Linked DNA regions of Homo sapiens: region 2 is linked to region 1. Evidence: fine-mapped QTL for protein levels in blood plasma. A gene starts in region 1. The other region holds a variant in brackets. All regions are shown on one strand. Distances are from middle to middle.

Region 1 (5,386 bases):
AATGGGCAAAAGCTGGAAGCATTCCCTTTGAAAACTGGTACAAGACAAGGATGCCCTCTCTCACCACTTGTATTCAACATAGTATTGGAAGTTCTGGCCAAGGCAATCAAACAAGAGAAAGAAATAAAGGGTATTCAAATAGGAAGAGAAGAAATCAAGTTATCTCTGTTTGCAGACGACTTGATTTTATATTTAGGAAGCCCCATCATCTCAGCCCCAAAACTTCTTGAACTGATAAGGAACTTCAGCAAGGTCTCAGGATACAAAATCAATGTATAAAAATCACAAGCATTCATTTACACCAACAATAGGCAAGCAGAGAGGCAAATCATGAATGAACTCCCATTCACAATCGCTACAAAGAGAATAAAATACATAGGTATACAGCTATCAAGGGATGTGAAGGACCTCTTCAAGGAGAACTACAAACCACTGCTCAAGGATATAAGAGAGAACACAAACAAATGGAAAAACATTCTATCCTCGTGGATAGGAAGAATCATGATCATGAAAATGGCCCTACTGCCCAAAGTAATCTATAGATTCAATGCTATTCCCATCAAACTACCATTGACATTCTTCACAGAATTAGAAAAACTATTTTAAATTTCATCCAGAATCAAAGAAGACCCCATATAGACAAGACAATCCTAAGCAAAAAGAACAAAGCAGGAGGCATCATGCTACCTGACTTCAAACTATACTACAAGGCTACAGTAACCAAAACAGCACAGTACTGGTACCAAAACAGACATACAGACCAATGGAGCAGAACGGAGACCTCAGAAATAACACCACATGTCTACAACAATCTAATCTTCGTCAAATCTGACAAAAAACAAGCAATGGGAAAATGATCTCCCATTCAGTAAATGGTCCTGGGAAAACTGGCTAGTTATATGCAAAAAACTGAAACTGGACCCCTTCCTTAGACCTTATACAAAAATTATCTCAAGATGGATTAAAGACTTAAATGTAAAACCCAAAACTATAAAAACCCTAGAAGAAAACCTAGGCAATACCATTCAGGGCATAGGCATGGGCAGAGACAAAAATGCCAAAAGCAATGGCAACAGAAGCCAAAATTGACAAATGGGATCTAATTAAACTAAAGAGCTTTTGCACAGCAAAAGAAACTATCATCAGAGTGAACAAGCAGCCTACAGAATGGGAGAAAATATTTGCAAACTATGCATCTGACAAAGGTCTCATATCCAGAATCCATAAGGAACTTAAACAAATTTACAGGAAAAAGACAAACTACCCCATCAAAAAGTGGGCAAAGGATATGAACAGACACTTCTCAAAAGAAGACATTTATGTAGCCAACAAACCTATGAAGAAAAGCTCACCATCACTGATCATCAGAGAAATGCAAATCAAAACCACAATGAGATACTATCTCGAGCCAGTTAGAATGGCAATTATTGAGAAGTCAGGAAACAACAGATGCTAGAGAGGATGTGGAGAAATAGGAACGCTTTTACACTGTCCGTGGGAATGTAATTAGTTCAACCATTGTGGAAGACAGTATGGAGATTCCTCAAGGATCTAGAACCAGAAATACCATTTGACCCAGCAGTCCCATTACTGGGTATATACCCAAAGGAGTATAAATCATTCTGCTATAAAGACACATACACACATATGTTTATCGCAGCACTGTTTACAATAGCAAAGACATGGAACCCACTCAAATGCCCATCAATGATAGACTGGATAAAGAAAATGTGGTACATATACACCATGGAATACTATGCAGCCATAATAAGGAACAAGATCATGTCTTTTGCATGGACATGTATGAAGCTAGAAGCCGTCATCCTCAGCAAACTACCACAGGAACAGAAAACCAGACACCACATGTTCTCACTCATAAGTGGGAGTTGAACATTGAGAACACATGGACACAAAGGGGAAACAACACACATCAGGGCCTGTTGGGAGGTTGGGGGTGAGGGGAGAGAACTTAGAGGATGGGTCAATAGGTACAGCAAAAGAAAAAAGAAAAACAAATTGACAGAAAAAATGGTAACAAAAATAAAAATAGGATAGTTTCCTTTTGGCTTACCTGAAGTGGCTATTTTAGCTATTAGTTCAAATATTTGTAAATTTTAAAATCTATCAAATTTTCTAGTGACAGCATGTGGAAGAGAAAGTTATTGAAAAGTCAGTTAGCTAATTTTTCAGACTGCAAATCACATATGTAGAATTATGGTTGTCTAGAAGTATGTTGTTTATGTTTATCATCAGTATATTTTTATAAGACAACTCATACATAATTAGAAGTAGTAACGGCTACATAAAATAGAGCATTTTCATTTAAAACAATTCTGATGGGGTAGCATGGAAGGAAGAAAATTTTGGTAGAATTTAGCTGGTTTCTAAGGAAGAGTAGAAGAGAAAACTGCCTCAGAAAAAATGAATAATGTGCCTGCAGTTTTAAACCTGAGTCTGAATACGTACATTTTGCTTAGAGCTGTGTGGAATCTGGGAAGCAAGTCTGTGTTTTCACTTTATGCACTGTTGGTTCTATTAATGAAAGCCACCAGGTGACTGGCAGTTTTCGGAGTCAAAGAAGCCTGTGTGTAGGATCTAGGGAGTCAGGTTTGAAAAAAAGATGTCAGCGACTTAAGACCCGTGTCACGTGACTCCCTCTACTTGCCAGCACTGAGGCTGTGGATCAAATTTCAACTCCAGGCAGTCCTTCCAGCCATGTGGGTTCAGCGGAAAGAGAAGCAAAACCACTCTTCCTAAAATGTTAGAAGCTGCTCTTCGCTTACCTTGGGGCCTTTGCATTGGGAGCTGTTTTTCACATCAAAGAATATGTGCTGAATGGAATTTTAGTATTTTGCTGTCGTTTTAATATTTTCGTCTGGTCTTCCTCAGTTCTTCCAGACGCTTTCTGAGAGAATGGGGGCAGGAGCTCTAGCCATCTGTGTAAGTATAGGCCTTCTTCTGTCTTCTGTGTTTACTGCCAGTTTTTAGGAGAGGGCCTTGCCTTCCTTGTTTTGATGAGATGTTTGTGTAACTTATTTTTCCTTCCCAGGAGGTGGGGAAAGATTTGTTACTTAAATTCCTATCTACTTAAATGGGTATTAGGCAGGATTTGGGATGGCATTCAGCATATTTGTGCACTTTAGTTTCCAAAAAAGGTGAAAGATGCATGCTGATTTATTCCGTTAAGTCAACTTGATTTAAAGTAGAGCACTTTCAAGCATTTTAGACTTTCTTGTCCCTGAATAGTTAAACATGAATGCTTCATTATAGCTATTAGAGAAATCTTGTGGCTAGCTTGAGGAGGAATTGAAGTAACCATTAATTTATTACTTTTGAGTATGTGTGTGACATTTTTCTGTTTTATATTTCTATTTTCGTTTAGTAATTCTGGAGTTTCTGTTTCAGCATGATTGCTGAAAGTGATGGTGGAGAAGCTCAGTTGATAAATGTTTGTGTATCCTTAAACTGTAGAAATGAATGGTTGTTATAACACAGTAGCATTAATAAATAACACTGAAATAAAATCCTTGGGAAAATGTGCATATTTCTGGAGTTTTAGAATTTTTAGAATTTATGAATTTCTAAATTATTCTGCTGGTGCTTGTACAAAACCTTTTGTAATAATCAAAAATTGTCAATTATATAATTTGCAGAATGCTGTAATTTAAATTTTGATTGTACTATATAGAAAATGCATATATCTGTATGAGAATTACACATATTTATGTTTCAAGTTGCTATTGTATTCCATAGGGACATTTTATTTTCTAGAATGTATTAAATGAGAAATATCTTCTTCCTTATTATCACCTTAACTGCTCACTTAAAAAATCACACTCAGGCCAGATCCTCTTTTTTTGTGTGTGTTTCAGAAAGAGCTGCAATTTGCTGTAGCTTCTGATGGCATTCTGAAGTGTTTAGAAATATCTGAGCAATTTTTGACACACAGACACCAAATGGTCACCAAATGGTCACCAAATGGTAGACCAGCCCTATAGATTAAGTTTTCTTAGTGAAACTGCAGGATGACCTTGTTTCCAGGCTCAAAACTTTTCAGCACCATGTATGTCACTCTGTCTTCCTTTTAACTCTGAGGCTTAGTAGCATCCAGGTATCCATGTGGTTATTCTTTTTTTATCACCCCAAAGAGTTTCCTTCAAAATCTGATTTATCTATGTGTAAAATACTGACTTTTACTTTACTGCAGAGGTGGCCCTTCTATTTTTCTAGCTTTATAAAAGAAACAATACAGAACTGAAAATGTGTAGAATGAGGCAGCAGATAGGTCATGAAGATTGGTAGTCATCTCTGATTGTCTGATTAGATCTTTACTTCTTTCCCTTGACCTGCAATATATTGATCTCTACCTTGACTGGAATGCACACTGACTCATGTATAAAACTTTATATTTTCCCTTAATTTATATCCAAAGCATGTATAAAATTTCAGTTAAAGTTGACATAAAAATCACACAGTGTAAGAGATTATTCACTCTGGTAGATGAGTAATTCTCAATCATTTCTACCCTTCTCCTTAAGGTTGGCCTTTGATTGTGCTGTCTTGGTTTTACTGTAGGAGGAAATACATTTTCAACAGTTGTACCATAGCATATCTGGAAAAAGATAGCTTTTGGAGAACAACAAAAAAAATTTTAAACATCGTGACAAAAAAGGGAGAACTAAGTCACACATTAATACATTCAATGAGCTGATACACTACTTTTTACTTTGTGTAGGAGTGAAGAGAAAGCTTTTCCTCTGCCCTTTCTGCAATTTTATTGAAACAATTGGCAATAGATTAATAGGAGAAAAAGAGTTACAAATTTATTAATATGTATATGGATATGAGAGCCCCTCAAATATGAGATTCAAAGAAGGGCCAGGTGGTTGAAGCTTAAATGCCTTCTTTTTGGGGAAGAGAGAAGTAGGGAGCTGCAGGTAATTTTAGAGAGGTAGTAAATAATTTTTAAAGTGAATGAATGGGTTCAAAGAGCATGGCCTGGGACAGCGTTTCCCTGAGCTATGGTGAGGTGGTGGAAAGGTGAGGGGTGGAATGAAGGTTGTGTTTTTATGCAGATAAAGTCTCCCAGCCAATCTCTTGGAGCTGTCCTCAGAAGAATAGATGAAAAGTCAGTGTGGATATGGTGACAGCTTTTAGTCTCTTTTCTGATGGTTAATTTTTCATGGTTATTTGATGAGATTCTCAGGAAGTAGATCTTAAGACAATTGCATTTCTTTTGGAAAGAAGCTTCCTTAATCAGATAAGGAAATTCCAGAGAGAGTCACTCTCAGTGCTTTAGGAAAGAAAAAGAGAGACTGAGGGAGGGCAGGAGAGTGGAAAGGCAGAGAGAGACCTTGGTTCTGAGGCTTATTTCTGAGACATTTTA
Region 2 (5,386 bases), 150 kb after region 1:
TCCTCTTCTTCCTCCTCCTCCTCTTCTTCCTCTTCCTCTTCCTCCTCTTCTTCTTCCTCTTCCTCCTCCTCCTCTTCTTCTTCTTCCTCCTCCTCTTCTTCCCTCTTCCCTCTACTACTACTTCTACTACTTCTTCTTCTTTGTCTTCCTCCTCCTCCTCCTCTTCTTCCTCTTCTCTTCTTCCTCCTCTTCTTCCTCTTCTTCTTCTTCCTCCTCCTCTTCTTCCTCTTCCTCTTCCTCCTGTTCTTCTTCCTCTTCCTCTTCCTCCTCCACTTCTTCCTCTTCTTCTTCCTCCTCCTCCTCTTCTTCCTCTTCCTCTTCCTCCTGTTCTTCTTCCTCTTCCTCTTCCTCCTCCACTTCTTCCTCTTCTTCTTCCTCCTCCTCCTCTTCTTCCTCTTCCTCTTCCTCCTGTTCTTCTTCCTCTTCCTCTTCCTCCTCCTCCTCTTCTTCTTCTTCCTCCTCCTCTTGTTCCTTCTCTCTACTACTACTTCTACTACTTCTTCTTCTTCTTCTTCCTCCTCCTCCTCCTCTTCTTCCTTCTTTCTTCTTCTTTCTTCTTTCTTCTGTCTTGCTCTGTCACCCTGGCTGGAGTGCAGTGGTGTGATCACAGCTCACTGCAGGCTGGACCTCTTGGGCTCAATAGGTCCTCCTGCCTCAGCCTCCTGAGTATCTAGGACCACAGGAATGTGCCACCATGCCTGCCTAATTTTATTTTGTTGTTTTTGTAGAGACAGAGTCTCACTAGGTTGCCCAGGCTTAGACTTCTCTTTAGTAGAGGATTCAGAAAATAAACCAATAACCAATAGATATGTAACTGTAACTTTGTTGTATAGAGGAGGAGCAGCAGCCAACTGTATGGAGTTGGTCTGGGTGAGTAGGAAAATGTTTTCCTCCTGTATATGTTCAAGGTTTTCCAGAGAAAACCAATAGGAGGTGTGTGTGTGTGTGTGTGTGTGTGTGTGTGTGTGTATGTATGTGTGTAAAGAGAGAGGTGATTTATTATGGGGTTTGGCTCACATGATTTTGGAGGCTGAAGAGCTCTATAATATGCTGTTTGCAAGCTCTGGTGAATCAGGGAAGCTGGTAGCATGGCTCAGTCTAAATCCGAAGTCTTGAGTGGCTGGGAAGCTGATGGTGCAAGTCCAAAGTCCAAAGGCTGCAGAACCTGGAGTTTTAATGTCCAAGAGCAGGGGAAGATGGGTGCCCCAGCTCTAGGAGAGACATCAAATTCACCTTTCCTCTGCCTTTTTGTTCTCTATATGTCCTCAGCCAATTGGATGGTGCCTGCAACATTTGGTGAGAGTGGATCTTCCTTACTCAGCCCATTGATTCAAATACCAGCCTCTTCCAGAACACCCTCACAGACATACCCAGAAATAATGTTTTGCCAACTCTTTGGACATCTCTTCATTTAGTCAAGTTGACACCTAAATTTAACCATCAAAAGCCACCTACCAGTGATGTCATGGAAGCTAAGAGAAGACAGTAATTCAAGAATAGTTACCTTCTTTAAATGTTACTAAGAACAAGAGTAAGACGGAGGCTGAGCTGTGACTGTTTTGGCAGATTCTGTGAAATAGTGAGACAAAGACCACATCTTAGGGCATTGAAGAATGAATTGGAGGTGAGGAAGTAGAGAAAGTGAGTGAAGATGGCTGTTTTAAAGGAATTTGCTATGAAGGGAAGCAAGTAGGACCATAGCTAATGGGAGATGTAGGATTAAGGAAGTATCTTTTAAAAATAAACAAACAAAAATGAGAAGATATGACTGCAGAGCATGCTTGTGATTGATGGGAATGGTCACAGTGGGGAAGGGAGTGACAGGAGACCGTTGAAGGAGCAGCCTTTGGGGAGATGAAAGGAGATGAGATCCACTGTGCATATGGAGGGAATTGCTCTTTGATACAACCAGTCTTATCTCTCATTGCAACAACAGGGAAGGCAGAGAGGATTGAATGATTTCAGCTAGGTTTGTAGATTTGATGGTGTGGCAATGACTAGCTTCTGCTCCGATGTTTCTGTTTTTCCAAAGAGGTATTAAGCAAGAATGGAAAGAAAGGGGTTTGAGAAGAGAGGGAAAGACAAGAAATATCATCTTGGAAAGTGGAAAATCAAGTTACGCAAGAAGTATAGCAGAATTGCTGTACATGAGGGAGGGCCCATCCAAAGTTTTTGGTCATAAATTTAATGTGAAACCAATCAACCAATTCTGTAACTTTTTCCAGCCACTTTGAGCTGCTCCGTTCTCAGCACAGAGAAAGCATATAGCTGGATTCATCCAACATTGTACTTTTGTGAGGTGAATGCAATGATTGGAGACTGGAGGAAAGAAATTAAGGGTATTAGCAAGAGAACGAAGGATCATAAAGGGAATTTAAGAAGGGAATTAAGAAGGGACTAAAAGCAGGAGGAATGCACAAGGGGCTTGGAAGGGGATTTTATTCATTCAGTTTACTCAGTCACTCAACAATTGAGCTCCTACTATGTGCCAAACCTAGTTGTAGGCTCTGTGGATATAATGTATTTATGAAGAAGACTGACCAAGTCCTCTCACAGAGTAGGGTGAGATGGACAATAAAGAATTAAAAGCAGCTGGGCGTGGTGGCTCACGCCTGTAATCCCAGCACTTTGGGAGGCTGAGGCGGGCAGATCACGAGGTCAAGAGATTGAGACCATCCTGGCCAACGTGGTGAAACCCCGTCTCTACTAAAAATACAGAAATTAGCTGGGCATGGTGACGCGTGCCTGTAGTCCCAGCTACTCAGGAGGCTGAGGCAGGAGAATCGCTTGAACCCAGGAGGCAGAAGTTGCAGTGAGCTGAGATGGCACCACTGCACTCCAACCTGGTGACAGAGCGAGACTCCATCTCAAAAAAAAAAAAAAGAATTAAAACCAGTAAGTTTAAGGTTGGATATTTCTAAGGGCTATGGGGAAACATAAAATAGGGTAGGGGATAGAGAGAAACAAGTGGAAGAGGAGGGAGGTAGTGA[T/A]TAATATCCCTTCCCAGGTGGCATCCTGGGAAGATAACCTGCTCCAGTGAAATTGAGCAAAGACCTGAATGAAACAAGGGACCAAACCTTAAAAGAGCTGTGGAAGTAGTGTGCAAGGCTGAGGGGACAGTGAGTGCTTTCCTATTTTTAAATGTCATTAGTAGTTGAATAGTAAGGCAAAAGAAACCATGATAAGGTATTTTTTTCCTTCCTTATTGTATTTTTAACTGGTGTTCTCATGATACCATGACACAGCTGGTTTAAGCAAGTAGGTGTTGTGCAAAGGTCATTAAAGTAAGCAATTGGTTCAGTCAAAAGTCTCATGTAAGTAGATCAAATGTTTAAAATAAGTATAAATATGCCGTATGTGATCTATTAATGTCCAGTTTGACACTTCGTTCTCCAGTGCCCAGCATTGGAATAACACCCATTCCAACTAGTAATAAGATTCAGTTGATATTTGTTGAATAAATTTTCATGCCTACATACAATTTAACACTTAGAAACACAACATCCCCCTCCAAACTTTTTCTAAAAAGTTCTTCTAAAGGAAGAGTTTGAACACAAACCCGAGGTCTCTTACCTTGAGAATGTGGGAACGTTCTTTACATGGCTTTGTAAAAAATTTAGATATAATTCACATACCATTGAAATTCACTCTTATAAAGTATACAATCTATGGCTTTGTGTGTGTTCACAAAACTGTGCAATCATCACCATTACCTAATTCCAGAATATTTTTATCACCCTAAAAAGAAACCTCAGCTGGGTACGGTGGCTCACTTCTGTAATCCCAGCACTTTGGGAGGCCAGGGTGGGCGGATCACAAGGTCAAGAGATAGAGACCATCCTGGCCAACATGGAGAAACCTCATCTCTACTAAAAATACAAAAATTAGCTGGGCATGGTGGTGCACACCTGTAGTCCCAGCTACTCCAGAGGCTGAGACAGGAGAATCGCTTGAACCTGGGAGGCGGAGGTTGCAGTGAGCCAAGATCACGCCACTGCACTCCAGCCTGGCAACAGAGCGAGACTCCATCTCAAAAAAAAAAAATAAAAAACCTCATGTACATCAGACCCATTAGCAGTCACTCCACATTCCCCACTCCTCCCAACCCCTGGCAATAACCAATCTACTTTCTGTCACTAAGTATTTGCCTATTCTGGACATTTCATATAAGTGGAATCACACAATATATATCCTTTTGTGTCTGTATTATTTCACTTAGCATGTTTTCAAGGTTCATTCATGTTGTAGCAGGTGTCAGTACTTTATTCCTTTTTATAGCCGAAGAATATTCTATTATGTGACTATACCATGTCTTGTTTATCCATTCATCAATTAATGGGCATTTGGATTGTCACCACTTTTAGGCTATTATGAATAATTCTACTATTTGCATTTGTGTTGATATTTTTGCTGTGGACATAAATTTTCAACTTTCTCAGATACATATGTACAAATATAAATGGCTTTATAAAGATTTAGAAAATGTTTTATCTTACTATTTCATACTTAACTGCATAATATATATTTTAAAAGAATACATTAAGTTATCACCAGTTATTTGCTTAGGTTACTAGTTGAATTATTTAACTTTTCTCCAGAAATCTAAGTACCATGGGCCTTATAGGAAGGTGTTACCTGTGTCCTGTGGCTCTGCAGCCCCCTTGCTCGCTGCTTGCTGCAAGGGTGGGAGCTGCTGTTTCAGTACCATTCTGATGGGGCACTGGGAACGCAACTCTGAACGGGTGCTGGCTTGTCTTTTCATCAATAAATACTACTTCTTCCTTGAGCTAGATCTCTTATCTGCCAGTTCATTCTCAGACTGCTAAACTTTACTTTGTCTGTATTGTCTAAGTTTAAAGTCATAAAACAAAAAGTAAATATAATTCATGTAGGTGACATTTGCAAATAGAAGTTTAGAAAAAATGCTTTCAGAGTCTTATAGGAAAAAGTTGACTGTCAGCCTTGTGCCCATTAATTCACAGAGACAGGGCTGGAAAATAGAATAAAGAAATACTGTCACTTCTGTTTTTTGCATAAGGAAGAAAGAATTATAGGCATTTGTAAACACTCAGACAGTCATAGACAACAGTCAGACATTTCTACTAATTTCCCTTAACAGTCAGCCTTGTTTCTTTTCATCATATTCTAGCATTTACATACCAGTAGTTTTAAAAAACAGGTACAAGCATAAAGCATAATTGTGTTATCCAAGCATAGTCAAATTATGCAATGTATTATGCAGTTGGCTCTCCTAAATGTCATGCTGGATATAGTTTATCCCTCTCACAGTGAGTCAGAAGCGGGAATGGGTTCATTCACTATTTCCAGAAAGCAGCTTACCACCAGCAGGTGCTGTAACTAGTGGGAAAGGGTAAGACTGGAATGC

Alleles and levels. Positions count from the first base shown, and alleles are read on the strand shown. Strength reflects both the effect of a copy and how common the allele is.
As copies of A replace T in region 2, the plasma level of the protein whose gene starts at base 2,693 in region 1 goes up (moderate association).

What was found. PIP is the posterior inclusion probability: the model's chance that the variant is causal. Protein levels are from antibody-based Olink assays in UK Biobank. Linkage for the fine-mapping came from a reference panel and not from the study's own genotypes, which makes the PIPs less certain.
Region 2: its variant is fine-mapped to the plasma level of the FAM13A protein (UK Biobank, PIP above 0.99).

What each region holds. Positions count from the first base shown.
Region 1 is chr4:89,054,492-89,059,877 of GRCh38, reverse strand. FAM13A (family with sequence similarity 13 member A) reads left to right here and starts at 2,693. Exons shown (of 24, transcript NM_014883.4): 1 at 2,693-2,940. The coding sequence starts at 2,914. RefSeq lists an enhancer at 2,830-3,392.
Region 2 is chr4:88,908,152-88,913,537 of GRCh38, reverse strand. All of the region lies in intron 5 of FAM13A (family with sequence similarity 13 member A), which reads left to right. Among named protein-coding and RNA genes, the nearest start is that of FAM13A, 150 kb to the left of the region's middle. The variant T/A (reference allele first, on the strand shown) is at 2,991.